2 separate regions of the Homo sapiens genome follow, and region 2 is linked to region 1. A link means that fine-mapping ties the variant in region 1 to the expression of a gene that starts in the linked region. Tissue or cell type: whole blood. Region 1 holds a variant in brackets; the other region holds the start of a gene. All regions are shown on one strand. Distances are between the middles of the regions.

Region 1 (7,952 bases):
TGTGCTCCAAGGTCACCCAACTTTAAAGGTCTGAAGCAAATGTGCAGGGGGTGCCATCAGTGGCTAGAGTTTATGAATTAGGGGTCTCTACATGCTTGGTCGTCCATGCAGTTCTTATTTATTTATTTTGAGACAGAGTCTCACTCTGTCGCCCAGGCTGGAGTGCAATGGCGCAGTCTCGGATCACTGCAACCTCCACCTCCTGGTTTCAAGTGATTCTCCCGCCTTAGCCTCCTGAGTAGCTGGGACTTCAGGTGCATGCCACCACACCCGGCTAATTTTTGTATTTTTAATAGAGATGGGGTTTCACTGTGTTGGCCAGGCTGGTCTCAAACTCCTAACTTCGTGATTCTCCCGCCTCGGCCTCCCAAAGTGCTGGGATTACAAGCGCAAGCCACTGCGCCCGGCCCATGTAGTTCTTTAAAAACATTTTAGTAATTTGCCTACCTTAAATTCAGGAGATTTCTTATAACAACCTGAATTTTTGGCTTCTCTTGAAACTGTGGGAAGGTCTAAAAATCCTCTGCCCTCTTTCCTATATGGCCACAATAGATAGGAACTGGGTAGGGATTACCTCCAAGGGCATTCTCTCTTTAAGTACTTGTGATCAGCAGCTCAAAGGCATTTGAACTGACTGGTGCCTGGCACACAGAACATCTTACCCAATAACTGCACATAGCAATGATAAGAGCCAGCAGGGGTCAAGTCCTTCTCATGTGGAGGAGATAGAAAAGCAAGAACCCAATACTGAGCATTACTAACCACATCATCTAAGAACTCCTGTAACTGAAGTAGAGCATCAGTAATCTTAGCCATTCACCGGAAACATTTAGGCCCATTCATCAGAAATGTTTCAAGCTAGTGAACAAGAATGTGTTTTCATGCCTGTCATATCAGGGCATTCAGTTACATACTCAAAAGGAAGTCCTTGAATCAGGAAGATGGCTCTGGTCAAACAACGTTTCTATGGTTTGTCTTTTCCTTTTTCTAATACATCTAGAAAAGTCTAATTTTAAAATACTCCAAGGATGCCTCGTTGATCTTATTTGGGGAAGGGAAGAATAGGAATGTTTGAAATTCTCAAAATAATCTTAAAACATAATTAAGGTAAATATTTGATTTAACTAAACACTCTGTCATTTAGTAGGGAATGAGCAAAGTGGCAAGAACCAAGTAGCAATTTGGGGGACTTCAGCCCCTTACTCCCACAAAGACACCCCACTCCCCAATAAATATTCATTCCAAGTAAAATAGTGGTTTTTTTGCCATTGCAAATGAGGGGCAAGACAAGTGCCCAAGTGCCACATCTCTTCCCAGACTATTACCCTACGTCCTTCCTTTTTAGAAATTTCCAAGGGACAATGAGGAGGTTGATGGCTGCCTATACCCCTCTCTCTGAAGGGAGTTGTGAATTAAATCAACAGGAATTAGGTCTCATTCCACAGAATCATTCATCCCTGCACTAGTGAATTTATTGCAAATAATGTGGCTTTATGGTTTGTTTTGCTGAAGTCCATCTGACTCCCTGTTTTGAACATGATACAGGTGCTTGGTTGGAACTGTGATCAGAATTTCTTTTTTATTTTTATTTTCTAAATTTTTATAGAGGTGGGGTTTTGCTATGTTGGCCAGGCTGGTCTTGAACTCCTGGTCTTATGTGATCCTCCCACCTCAGCCTCCCGAAGTGCTGAGATTACAGGCATGAACCACTGTGCCTGGCCCAGAATTATTTTTAAAAGTAATCATGCTTGACTTAGCCCTGTTAAGCCTCCAAAATTCTGGTGAGGTCCCTTTGCTTGTAAATACTTAGAAAAACTGTACATGAGCAAAATAGAGAAGAATTAGATAAACATGGCTTTGTATATAGCAGTGTCCCAGTAAGTAAGCAAACTGATATTCCCTACATACCCTATTTCAGAGGGCAGGCTGAGGGGCGCTCAGGCAGAAATACCGTAAGTTCAACTGAATGGCAAGTTCTTTAATCCAAGATTGAAGTGTGTGGCAAAACATGCCAGGAACTCTTACAAGCAGTTGGCATGAATTAACTTCTTTGATCCTCACAGCAGCCCTAAAAGTAGGAAATATTTTTCTGTCCCTGTTACAAGTAAGGAAACCAAAGGACAGAGAGGGAAAGTAACTGCCCAGTCACACAGCTAGTAAATGGCAGAGGTGGGGCATAGATCCAGGCAGCCTGAAGGTTGTACTCTGATGATAAGATGAATTTCTGGCAAGCACGTTTTGCTGACCTCTCCAAGGCAGACCTAATGTGGTGACAAAACCTATCACACTTGCTTACTGTGGCACGATGCTTTTGCGTTGTGACACAGCATAGCTACAGTGCTTACAGCACAATGCTGTGAGCCCAGAGGAGCTTCATGTCACCTTTAATGACCCAAATTAGACCTAAGAAAATTGTTAGCCAACAATGACAGCATCCTTACATCACGTCAGCGCTTTAAAAAGTGGTGAAATTTAATACTCAGTTTGCTTTTGAAATCAGGTTCACCCAACCTCCACTCTTAGCTGTGCATTAGATAAATGTAGAAATTGCCTCCTTTTTCATCTTGAGTCTCAAACAACAGCTCTGGACTCAGAGCTAATAGACTTCCTGAGTCCAACCAATTCAAGCAGCCAATGAGGCATCCTGGCAAATGAGGACATTTCTCCAGGGGATGAGGCTGTCCTTGGTGCCCTTGCTCCCCTCTGCCAGCAGGATAGGTTCTGTGAGTTATGCTTCTGGTCACGTTGGTGGGTTTGTGCTGACCTGTCCCCAGTAGACTCTTTTGTGATGAGGGGTGGGACTAATGAGACGCCTGGCCAAAGTGGCAGAATCTGTGACTGTGAAAGATGGTGACACTGCCAGGTATAAGGAAGGACTTAAGTTGATGGGCACCAAACAGAGAACTTTCTCTATGCCTGTGACTGGAACATGTCCATCTTGGTAGCCAGGTCTCCACTACACAATTCAGTTTTTGCTCCCTTAGCAGTTAACTGTCAAATTAGAAATCCATCCTGTTTTAGTCTTTAAAGCCTTGATATAATTTAACTATAGTCAGCAGAAACAAACAAATGAACAAAATCCATCAATAACTTGTGAGGCTCTTCCTTTCCTATAACCCGAGGTCATCAGACATAATGGTTAAGGGTGTGGGTCCCTGGAAGAAGACTGCATGGCTTGAATCCTGGCCCTGTTACTCACCAGACACATAACATTAAGCTCTGGGTATCTCAGTTTCTTCATCTTTAAAATAGGAATAATGATAATTGAAGACTAAGAGTGCCTCATAGTAAGACCTTAATAATTACCACTATCTCTGTTTCCAGTCATCCTCAGGTAGTTCAGTGTAATCTGGTAGAGACATATCCTAGCTGTGAAGAAGTAATTATGTTATTTTGGCTCTCCCCTTTTTCTCTTTACTTCTTGCACTGCTATGTGACAGCTCTCGGGTGCCAAACAGCCTCTTCCTGTGATTAAAGTTTCCAATTTATAACAAACAGAAACAAACAAACAAAAAAGCGGTAGTACTTACTCTAGCCACACCCTACGTGAGGGCAGATGCTGGGCTGTTGCCATGGTGATGCAGAGTATTTTGTAAAACACTTGGCC[CG/C]GGGGCAGTTAATGAGTCATACTCAGGGATGGGTGGGGAAAGGGCAACTGCTTTCAATTAAAAGGGACAGGCCAATAATAGTTGAATTGGGAGACTGCCTTGGTTCCTGCAGTACATCAGAGACACCTTGGGGCTGAGGGTTTTGTTATACACTTGGTCCATTTGTTGTGTGGACATTTTCTATTTCCTTCCTCTGGGTAGAGGGAGCGATACAGTAGATTCCCTTTTGCTCTTCCGCTTATATAAAAAACTTCCAACTAAGTTCTGATAAAATCAGTTCTGTTTTCCTGTGAAGCGTTGACACAACTAAAGCTAGTGAAAGGATTTTTGTGACTTTCTTCCATCCCGTGTCTTTGCACATATTCATTGTCCATAAGTAAGGCATCTGAAACATATTATTCAGCATTATCCTAAACTTTTCAGCAGGAAGTGTTTGAACAACTATAGGCAACGTAATTTCAGGATGGAGGATCTATACCTTACATGACTCCTCTGAAATTTCGTGCTGGTTGAAGTCAGTAAACCTGCCTCAAGCATGCTGAGAAGTGGTTACATGTTGCCTCCTGAGGTGTGTCATACACCTCAAGTGGTTAGTTATGATTAATATTGCTCAATTCTCATTGACTACTCATAGCATATTGGGCAGGAGCAGAGTGTGGACATACCCTCTAGGAAATGACATGCTAATAAATGTCAACCACTCAATCACTTAACTAGGTCTTACTGAGCTGTTGCCATGAGAAAGGCACAATGCTAGGATATAATCAGGAGTTTAAACATAGTAAAACACAGCTCTTTCCTACTGAGAGCTTATAATCTTAGGTGAGAAGGAAGAGAAAAAAACATAGGAAAAAATAACTTGCAATAATATGATGCACATGGTAATATTAAATGAATAGTACCAGAAATGGGTGATACGTGTGTAGAGGAGGGAGAAATTACCATGGGCTGTGGTGGTCAAGGGAGGTGGGATTTGACATGAGTTTTGAAGTATGGGTAGAGAAGAGGGTGAGGGCATTCAGGAAAGGGGAAAAGATCAACAGCACAAAGATTGGGCCTCATCCCTGGAACTTGGTCCATGTAAGGATGTGAGGACTGGCCAAGGGAGGGCCAGAAACTGGGGACAAGACAAGTCATTTAAGTGGGGTGCTATTAGCATATCATGGAGGGTCATTAATACAGAGGGTAGTACTTGTGGAGCCAAACAAAACCAGAAGAACTATGTGGAATCCAAAGGAGGCTATTCAAAAACTTGCAAGTTATGGGCCTGCCAAGGAAGGAAAAAGTGAAAAGAATAGAGATTTCAGTCAACCCAAGTCATACAATCAAGCGCAGAAATTAACAACATAATTTTATAAGGTGTGAAGGATCTGATGAATTGGCATGGTGACATTATAGTGACTCAAGAGCCAAATGAAAGCTGTGATTAATCAGAAAAATATGTATACTCAATCTTCAACGTCAGTTTTATAATATTTAAGGGCATTTGATTATTATGAAAGGCAACCTTTAAAAGTGATTGTTGAGTTTTGCTTGATTAAAAACTAGGATATGAAGATTTATACTTAAGGTACAAAAAGATGAAAAACCTGGGTTTCTTTTTTGTTTTTTGAGACAGAGTCTCACCCTGTCGCCCAGGCTGGAGTGCAGTGGCGTGATCTCGGCTCACTGCAAGCTCCGCCTCCCGGGTTCACGCCATTCTCCTGCCTCAGCCTCCCGAGTAGCTGGGACTAGAGGTGCCCACCACCACACCCGGCTAATTTTTTGTATATTTTTATATTTTTTTAGTAGAGATGGGGTTTCAGCGTGTTAGCCAGGATGGTCTCGATCTCCTGACCTCGTGATCCACCCGCCTCGGCCTCCCAGAGTGCTGGGATTACAGGTGTGAGCCACTGCTCCCGGCCAAACCTGGGTTTCGGAAATTTAATTTTAATAAGGCAAATATTAATTTTAAAAATCAAAATTTTGCAAATAATTTTTTCTATGTGCAATTGCTGCCTTCAAGGACACCAACAGCCCCACATCACTCTGGGGCCAGTTTTAGAAGCAGACCTTCAGGGGAGCAAGTCGGGCGGGGGAGGGGAGGTGGGCTGCAATGGGAAAGGCAGAGATTGCTGCAGGTGAGCACAGTACGGAGGGTGTCCATGGAGGCCAAAGGTGATTCAGGCCAGCAGGGGCGGTAGTGGGAGACTAGATATAGGGTCTGTCAGTCCTTGGGAGTGGGGCTTGGGGAGGGACTTTAGTCCCTCAAGGTATTGTAAAAGTTATAAGAATCAAACTTGAGGCGGGGCGTGGTGGCTCACACCTGTAATCCCAGCACTTTGGGAGGCCGAGGCAGGCAGATCACGAGGTCAAGAGATCGAGACCATCCTGGCTAGCATGGTGAAACCCTGTCTCTACTAAAAATACAAAAAATTAGCCGGGCGTGATGGCGCCTGCCTGTAGTCCCAGCAACTCGGGAGGCTGAGGCAGGAGAATTGCTTGAACCTGGGAGGCAGAGGTTGCAGTGAGCCGAGATCGCACCACTGCGCTCCAGCCTGGGTTACAGAGTGAGACTCTGTCTCAAAAAAAAAAAAAAAAAAAATCAAAATTGAATCACTTGTGTTAAAAATTCTCACAAATGGAGCTGGGGAAGGTTCTTATGCACAAATGACTGATAATGAGAACTATTAGAAAAGAATCTGCAAAACCCACAATCTTTTAAAAAGGCCATCACAAACTTACACAAAAAAATACTTTTGTGAGGACATCTGCCAGCCACTGCCTGTCCAACTTGGGACTGGTGCCACTAGTGTTGTTGATCCTTGTAGCCAAGGATAATTGATTCAAAACAATTGTGTAATCCCCCCTCTTTTATCCTTTAAAAATCTTTATCTTCCTTTACCTCCCTGAATATGCACGTTTACTATGGCATGTGTATTCCCATTGCAATGCCTATTCCCAAATAAATATGATATAATATAATTTATTTATTTTGAAACAGGGTCTTGCTCTGTCACCTAGACTGGAGTGCAATGGCACGATCATAGCTCACTGCAACCTTGAACTGCTGGGCTCAAGCGATCCTCCCGCTTGCCCTTCTGAATAGCTATGACTGCAGGGTGTGCCACCATACCCGACTAATTTTTAAAAATTTTTTTTGTAGAAAAATTATGTTGCTCAGGCTGGCCTCCAACTGTTGGCCACAAGCAATCCTACTGCCTTGGCCTACTGAAGTGTTGGGATTAGAGGTTATAGGTGTGAGCCACTCACTGTGCCTGACCTCATTTTCTTTTCTCTTTCCTTGTTTCTTTTTCTCCTCCTCCTCCTCCCTTCCTCCTCCTCCTCTTTTTTTTCTTCTTCCTTTTTCTTCTTTCTTCTTCTTCTTCTTTTTTTCAGAGCTAGCTGTTGCTTTATTTTGGAAAAAAAACAATTGAATTGTTTTTTAGTTGGGGGTATGGGCAAGAGGAGGTACCCCAGGGGAGGCTAGGGCTGAGCCTCAGGTGGGTCTCTTGTTCCCCTTGCTTCCCTACACAGCGGCCTCCCCTGCAGGCTCTGGGGCAGCCACAGGAGCAGGAGGCTGGGAGGGGCTGCCATGGCCGTTCACTGGGGCAGGACAGCAGAGGGCTGGACACCAGCTTGTTATTGCTGGTTTGGATCTTTTTCAAAACCGTGGCCTTGGAAGCGCTGGTACGGCTGAAGGAGTCAGAGCTCTTGCCAGAGTCAAAGCTGGAACCCAGGCTGTGATTGAGGCCAGAGCTTGTGAGGCCCAGTAGGCCGAGCTCAGCCCATCTGAGCAGCCACTGGTGGTCTTTGTATGGATACTCATGTTCTGCATCCCAGACTCCAGGCTGCTGTCCTTGTCCTCCGGCAGCTTCCCGTAGGTGGTGAACTCAGTGTCCAGGGGAGCCTGGCGTTCATCAGCTCCTGGCACTCGCGTACCTGCTATGTCATGCCCTGCTTGTCCCACTGCAGGGTGGCCTCCAGCTCTGCCAGCGTGGCGTTGGCTCCTTTATAGCCAGCGGCTTGGCTCTCCGATGGTGAACCCCAGGGAAGCCCTCTGGCCTTTGAGGCCCTTAGTATCAGCTGGAGCCAGATGATGTTCGGGTTCATCTCTGAGATCTGCATCTTTGTGCACCACAGGGCATCCCTGTGTTTCCCAGCCAGTGTCTGCAACCCCTCACACTTAGATCTGGTGCCCTCTCAGCCTCGCCCAGCTGCTTTGGCTATCTCCTCCCACTTGGGGACTTGGCCATGTCACTGCCCACATCCAGTGTGCGGCTTTTGGCCATAGACAGGACCACAGATGTGTCCGAGTCTGGAGGTCTCCTCTTCATACAGCTGCCTGAGGAGGCTGATCTCATC
Region 2 (7,952 bases), 90 kb after region 1:
CTGTAACATAATTGTAATCTGTCCTTCCTAGGATTTATCATACTCTGATAGTCCTTTGTTTATTTAGTCATTGTTCTCTCCCCCAACGAGAAGTTATACTCAGTGAAGGCATGACCTTGTCTGTCTTGCTGGTTGTATTCTCAGGATCTATGACAGTGCCAACGGGTAGCAGTGAGTAAACAATAACAATAAGTGACAACTCTCCATCAGTCAATAATTTAGAGATGAATCTGGTTGTACTATTAGTCATGATTATGTGTACACCCAAGATGCATTTTTTCTTATTTACTATGCAGCTTCTATCAATCTAATTTATATTCCTCCCACTTTCCACCCTCCCATGCACAAATTCACCAACTCTCTAGTTCATGTTTTAAAAAAGTGACATTGCTTTATTACTATTGGCAGGTGGGGCCTGCATGAGGTGGTTAGTGTGCTCAGGGGATGGGTGGGCTGTGGAGATGATGACAGAAAGGCTGGAAGGAAAGGGGGTGGGTTTGAAGGCCAGGGCCAAGGGGTCCTCAGGTCCGCTTCTGGGAAGGGACAGCCTTGAGGAAGGAGTCATGGCAAGCCATAGCTAGGCCACCAATCAGATTAAGAAATTCTGAGAAATCTAGCTGACCATCACTGTTGGTGTCCAGTTTCTTCATCATGCGGTCAAGGACACCAGGGTCCTTCTGGTTCTGCAGAGAAAATAATAATTACACCTTTATATCGCATCTTCTAATGTGCTTTCAAATATGCTGCCACATTTTATTCTCACAGGAGTATAAGGTACAGGATAGGGATTATTAATATTCCCATTTGCCAGATGCAGAAACAGACTAAAAGAGGTGAAGTGACCTGCCTAAGGGGCAGACCTGGGCCTTGAACCAAAGGTTTTCCCACTCCTAGTCCAGGGCTCTTTCTATGATATTAGGGGCTATTCAGTTTTGTAAAGCCAGTGGAACACTTCTTTCAAGTGTTGCATGCAACTCCAATAGATAAACTATATAAAAGTACAGCGGGTTCAGGTGGAAAAAGGCCACAGGCCCTGCCTAATCAGTCTCATCCTCCACTTGCCCAAGCTGCCAACACAGATACAGACTTAGAGCCACTGGTTACAAATGGCTATTTACATTTACATTTACATTAACTAATTTAGAAAGTCAGTCTGTTAGTCACACTAGCCACATTTCAAGCACTCAGCAGACACATGTGGCTGGTGGCTACCATGTTGGATAGAGCAGATATAGAATGTATTTCCACCACTGCAGAAAGTTCTACTGGACAGGGCTGCCATAGAACCTCTGGGGTAGAATAATGAAATTTGAAAATAATTCCATTACGTCATATACCATTTCATATATCTCTCTTCCTAAATGGAAAAACTCCTGGCTTAGAGTGAGTTAAAATGAAGCAAGAGTGTGGGGTGTCAGTTGCTGCTCCTTCATTCCTGGCCATTCTGCCAGGGTCTTGTTTCATGTTGTGGGTAGTTTGGGGAAGTGGGGGAGACAGGGACCAGTACCTTTGTGAAGGCAGCTAGTTCTGTATTCATGAAGCTTAGGAACTCTGTCTTGGAGAGAGTGTAGTTATAACCATCCTTTCCAGCATACTTCTGGAAGACAGCAATCAGGGACTCGATGCACCGCTCAGTCTCTGTAGGGCTGGAGATTTTTGCCTTTGGAGAAAAAAAATTGCAGGGCTCAGACAAGGGAAGATGTCAAGGCTGGATACTGGAGAAAACTCCAGGGACTCTTATTTCAGGTCAAAGCAGTTTCCTAAAAGACTGAGTCATTTTTTCAAGGGGCTGAGGGGTTCAAGACAACCACAAAAAGTCACACTCTGTGACCTTCCGTCCTACCCCTCGCCACATGTTTATTCCAGGTGAAATATATGGAAGGTAAATGTGGAGCATTGCTGGCACGTTTAAAAGCAGTAGACTGCCTAGATGAGAGTGACGGTGACAAGGTTTACTCATATTTTTAAAATGTGTGGATAAATACATGTGTAACTCTATATCCACAAATCCATATGCACACCAAACATTGTCTATAGGTTAATAATTTCTTATTTTCCAAGAGTGTATGGAGGCTTTTGTGATTAATGAAATGTCAGTTCTTTTTAAAGCAATACCGAATTCCTGGGACTCACACATTTCCTTAGAGAAAACTAAAAGCATAGCTATCATTGTGTATGCAGTGGGAGATAGAACTTTTTAGATGTTTGAAAATGGCTTTCATATTTAAGAGTTAGGAACCATTAATCTTAGATGTGAGGAAACGGACAGGAGAAGGGAATGGATATGGCAGAGCCAGCCCTGGAATCTGGGCCTCCCAGTCCCTTTCTGCAGTCCTTAGCCTTGCAGGCTTCCACTTCCTGGTGGGAAATAGTGACAGAGAAGGTGGAGCTTCTCTGGAGGTCACTCCAAACCAGGAAGCTCTCAGGTTGCTGCTTACACAGCATCTACAATGTAAGAGATTTAAATCCTGTACTGGGCTCTTTCCTCACAGCAGAATTTTTCAAGGAAATTCTATAGGGCCCAGTCATCCGGTTCCCCAAGGGGACTTAGGGTCCCAAAAGTGAGGAGCTGTTGGCCTCCCTCTGGTGGGTAGAAGCCGCAATTACAGACTTTCTGGGAAACCGGCCTGGCCACACCCTTCCTCTGAGACTTTACCTACTAGCGTTAACAATGATTTATGTTTGGATGGTGACATTTGCAACTTAGCATTTAGCCTTTCGTTTGTTCTTAGGATGGACTTCCTGGAGGCCAGAGCTAGAGGCTTTCTCACTCCGTAATTAACACGTGCTAAGAACTGATCTGAGCCCTTAGCTACACAGCTGCAGATTGATTCCTCCTTCCTGTACAGCCTTTATGCTGCAGAGATCCTAGCTGAGTCTTGCCTCCCATTGCATCTTACAGCGTTAGAACCCCTGAACCCTAAGAGAGGTGGACTTTTTCCCAAGAATCACATTGTTGGAGGATGATTGTTTTTGTTTTGCTCTAAATTGAACTTTTCATTAAGAAAAGTGTTGGTAGGTTCAGGGGCCTTTAGGGGAGAAACAAAATACCACAGCCTAGAAACAGATGTGTTTGTTCTGTTACAACATGCCCTTCATATCAGGCCTAAAATCTCCCTGTCTTACTAAGGTATCAGATGACAGGAAGGAGACTGGCTGGGAGGCCACACCAGGCTGAGGAGCATGGGCTTTGTCACCTTTCTCTGGAACTACAGATTCTCCCCCTGCCCCTTTTCCTTCCAGAATGCAGACAGTTTTGCTTTTCCAGTTTCACAGTGCCTTTCTGCTTCACATTTTTCTCTCCTTAACATCAGTCTTGGTGTAATTTAGAGATTATTTTCTTTTGAAAACTGTTGCTGTTGCTATCAGCCACAAGGAGAAAATTAAAACCTCTTTGCATTTCCTCCCAGAGGTAATTCTCCAAAGTGAAAGAAAGAGACACAATTATCAAATTACTAAAATGGAACGGCATAATTTGTAGAGCTCCAGGGCACTTTGGAGATGGGTCCTGAGGACGCCCAGAAACCGGAAAGCTCTGCCCAGGGTGGCGCAGTGGCTGAAGGAGAGGAGAACCGGCGCTCTCCACACCTCATGGCACTCTTGGAGTCTTACTTGGTGGGGATGGCGATAGCAAGGAGCAAACATTATGATAAACGGATACTGTGAAATAATTTTTAAAAATGCATGCTAAGCGCTCAACATTTGAGGAAAGAAAAAAATACGATGAAAAAGACGTAGCAATTTTAAAAACCTCAACTATTGTCTTCTCATTCTTAACCAACACCCTCCGGAGCTTTCTGTCCCTGCTGTAGCAGGACTGCAACCCCAGACAGTATGGAAGGGAATGGGCGTGGCTCTGTTCCAATACTTCATTTATGGACGCTGAAGTTTGATTTCCACATAATTTTCACATGTCAGAAAGTATTTTTCTTCTTTTGATTTCTTTCAATCATTTACAAATGTAAACTTTATTCTTAGCTTGTGGGCAGAACAGAAAACCCGACTTGGCCCGCGGGCCAGTTTGCTGACTCTCCACTAAGGAGAGGTAAAGAAAGAGATTTTGGAGGTGGAATTATGGAAAATATGAGTTCAACTGGGAGATGAAAGGAGATAAGAAGAGAAAAATAAGTTACGGAGTGAGTGCCTAAATAGATGGTGGGGTAAAAGGAAGAGGAAGGAGGAGAGGGCTCAGCTGGGACCGGGTTCCTCCCACATTCTTGGCCGCGGCGCTGCGGGCGGCGACGGGCTAAAGTTTCAGTCCCGTTGGGTCTTGGCCGTCTGCCGGGTGCTTACTGAAACTTTGATTTTCCCTGGGGCTAGACGACCAAGTTCTAAAATGTCCCTTTTCTGGTGTACAGAAATAACTAGTGACCCCTCGCAGCTTTCCAGCCCCCTGCCTTAAACTTGCTCCTAGGCGTCTCTGGGCTCCCGGGAGACCGCGGGCGAGGGGCTGGAGGCAGTGACCCACGACGGGTCCCCCCCCCGCGCGGTGAGCGGCCAGCACTTCCTCTTCCCCAGCCCTGGGCCTTGTCGTGACTGGGAAGGCTAAAGAACCTCCGCTGCTACCCTAGGCGGCCACCCCAAGGATGATTTTAGGGCTTCATCCTTCCATCCCTTCTTCCCCAGTTCCCTCCCACGAGGCTGATTTTTCCTGCTGTTTCCTGCCACGTCCACACATAAGTCAAAGATAAAGTCTGCTGGGAAGTATGTGGGTTTTTTTTCTTTTCTTTTTCTTTTCATGTAAGAAGAAGAAGAAGAAAAGTGAGGCTTACCATGTTGGAGCTGAGCGAGGCGCGGGAGGCTGTGGCTGGGAGCGGCGCTGAGAGCTCTGTGCGCGCGGCGTGCGGGTCTGGAGCCTCTCCTCAACCCACGCCCTTCCCGGCCCAGCCTTGCCCAAGCCTTACTCAGACAGCTTCCGCGCCTGCCCCGCCCCTCCCCGCCTCCCGGGCTGGGCCTGGGACCGCGGCCGGCGCTAACCACAGAACTGAGCTTTAAGACTCAAATAAACCCACCGTCCTCTCCAGCGATTTAAGCAGTCTCACTCTCCCTCCTTTCCCTCTTTTCCCTCCTCTTTCCCCCCGGCCCCCTCCACCCCGTCCTGTGATTCCTGAAGATTTTTGACTTTTTAGAATTATAAGTTTTGCACAGTAGTCTTCGGGAAGTCTGTCCATGTCCGTGGGTCTTTCCCATGTATGAGCTCATTCTGGGCATTTAGGTTAGATAGGCAAAAAAGGTCTCTTTTGGAAACAGCAGTGGGCCGGGCGCGGTGGCTCAGGCCTGTAATCCCAGCACTTTGGGAGGCCGAGGCGGGTAGATCACATGAGGTCAGGAGTTTGAGATCAGCCTGACTAACATGGTGAAACCCCTGTCTCTACTAAAAATACAAAATTAGCCTGGCGTGGTGGCACACGCCTGTAATACCAACTACTTGGGAGGCTGAGGCAGAAATATCGATTGAACCCGGGAGGTGGAGTTTGCAGCGAGCTGAGATCGCGCCGTTGCACTCCAGCCGCCTGGGCAACAAGAGCGGAACAATGTCTCAAAAAACAAACAAAAACAGGCCGGGCGCAGCGGCTCACTCCTGTAATCCCAGCACTTTGGGAGGCCGAGGCGGGTGGATCACGAGGTCAGGAGATCGGGACCATCCTGGCTAACGCGGCAAAACCCCGTCTCTACTAAAAATACAAAAAATTAGCCGGACGTGGTGGCGGGCGCCTGTAGTTCCAGCTACTCGGGAGGCTGAGGCAGGAGAATGGCGTGAACCCCGGAGGCAGAGCTTGCAGTGAGCCGAGATCGCGCCACTGCACTCTAGCCTGGGCGACAGAGCAAGACTCCATCTCAAAAACAAACAAACAAAAAACAAAACCAAGAGTGTTAGTTAGGACAGAGTGCGGGTCAGAATTGTAGACAAGTTCCTAGGAGTTGGGGCTCTCTATTGCTCCACAGGGAAGATATTTAACAGTAAACAGTGGTGAGTATTGCCAAATCAATTGCCACGGGATTACTGGGGATTATTGTCAAGGGACAATTGCCACCCCTCTCTCTCAAACTTTTCTGTAAACTGAGGACAGCCACAAAGACAAAATCCGAAAACCAAACTACTGCACTTAAAAATTGATCCGTGCTAGTAAGGCATTTATCTGTGTGCAGTTTGCAATGAAATTAGGAGTTGTATTAAGAATCAGAAGACTTGGGTTCCAGTCTTGTGTCTGTTACTTCATTGCAATACTTTTGACCAGACTTGTCACTCCTTTGAGCTTCCACTTCCTTATTTGTAATAGGTCTTGAGATAGGCCTTTCCTGTTTCATAAGATTGTTAGGACTGTCAAGTAAAGTGAGGGCTTAGAAAGGTCTCCAAAAACTGCAGAGTAGACGCAAATGAAAGATAATGGGCTATAGGCATTGTGTGAACTGCTTCCCTGCACCTGCTCTCACAGGTGCCCTGAGCACGTGAGACAAATCTCCATCTCAGTTCTCAGCTACTCCAGACCCACATTTTCAGTTACTTGTTTATGAATCCACTTGAGAGTCCCACCTGCACTTCAGACTCAATAATTCAGGAATAACTAGTTTTCCCCAAACCTGTTTCTGTCTTCTCTGCTAAGGGTACTATCACTCTACCATTTTCCCTGCTTGAAAGCATTGGAGCCACTGAGTCTAAATGCCTTTTTGACTCACAGTTCTTATCAAGTGCCAGGTAATAGACTTCAAACCTTTGGTGGTGGGGGGTGTTACATGAACGGCTGCTGGGGTTCCTTAATACCTTAAAGTTACATGTAAATTTTTTGCATAAGAGAAATTTTTCTGGCGAAGAGTCCACATCTTTCATCTGATTCTCAGAAAAATTTATGATCCCAACATATTAAGGAATCATTTGTCTAAATTACTCCATAACTCAATCATGAGGCCTTACACACCACAGTTCTTTTCTTTTTTTTCTTTTTTGAGACGTTGTTTCACTCTTGTTGCCTAGGCGGCTGGAGTGCAACGGGGTGATCTCAGCTCACTGCAACCTCCGCCTCCCGGGTTAAAGCGATTCTCCTGCCTCAGCCTCCTGAGTAGCTGGAATTACAGGTGTGCGCCACCACACCCTGCTAATTTTTTGTGTATTTTTAGTAGAGACGGGGTTTCACCATGTTGGTTATGCTGGTCTGGAACTCCTGACCTCGTGATCTGCCCTCCTCAGCCTCCCAAAGTGCTGGGATTACAGGTGAGAGCCACTGCGCCCGGCCACTATAGTTCTTTTTAAGAGAAAATGCCTCACTTAGAACCTGTGCTCAAGGGGCAGCCCAGGTGGCCAAGTTTTGCATGATTTGACACACTGTGACCCTGTTAGAGTGGACTGGGTTGAAGTTAGTCTGGACACCAGCACTGCCAATCTATAGGATGGCTGGTAGTGGATGTTTCATGACATAACATGGAAAGATGAACTAGGGCCAAAAAGCTTCTTGTTTTTGGGAAACTGAAATTAGAAGCACATAGAAAATTAGGCATTTAGAAGAGCTGAAGCTGAACATTTGCATAGACAGAACCATGAAGTCATGGCAAATAAAACTTATGGAGAAGACATCATGAGTAAGTGGAAGCTATGAAATTTGGAAGAAATAGACAGAGGGGAATGTAAGCCAATTGCTAACTGTAAATTAAAGAAAAGGCTACTTGGGTGTTCGCTGAATTGTGAAAATGGTGAACCACTGGGAGTGAAGAGCCTGCAGTCTGACTTCATTAGCGTTTTTGTTCTTCCTAAACCTAGTTGTTAGTTTTTCTTACTTTCTCTATGACATTTATTCTTTCAATAACTCTTCAGCCCCATGAAGTAGCTTGAATGAAACCAAAGGAAAAAGCTAAACCAAATAAGTATGACTTGTTCAGAGCCAGGTTGGGGGATCAGCCCCACCCAGTTAGGGCTGCCTGCTTGACAGCTGCTCCCCAGGGTCACGCTGAAAGGGGTT

The links. PIP is the estimated chance that this variant, and not a neighbour inherited with it, causes the effect.
Region 2: it holds the start of S100A11, and the variant in region 1 is fine-mapped to the expression of S100A11 in whole blood (TOPMed, PIP 0.94).

Annotation. Positions count from the first base shown.
Region 1 is chr1:151,942,324-151,950,275 of GRCh38, forward strand. All of the region lies in intron 1 of LOC124904421 (a long non-coding RNA gene), which reads right to left. It also overlaps the pseudogene KRT8P28. Among named protein-coding and RNA genes, the nearest start is that of THEM4, 37 kb to the left of the region's middle. RefSeq lists an enhancer at 3,351-3,886. The variant CG/C (reference allele first, on the strand shown) is at 3,608.
Region 2 is chr1:152,032,141-152,040,092 of GRCh38, forward strand. It overlaps S100A11 (S100 calcium binding protein A11), which reads right to left and starts at 4,864. Exons shown (of 3, transcript NM_005620.2): 1 at 4,773-4,864; 2 at 1,508-1,660; 3 at 366-683. The coding sequence starts at 4,775. The coding sequence ends at 522. RefSeq lists enhancers at 2,933-3,227, 6,325-6,484 and a silencer at 4,073-4,367.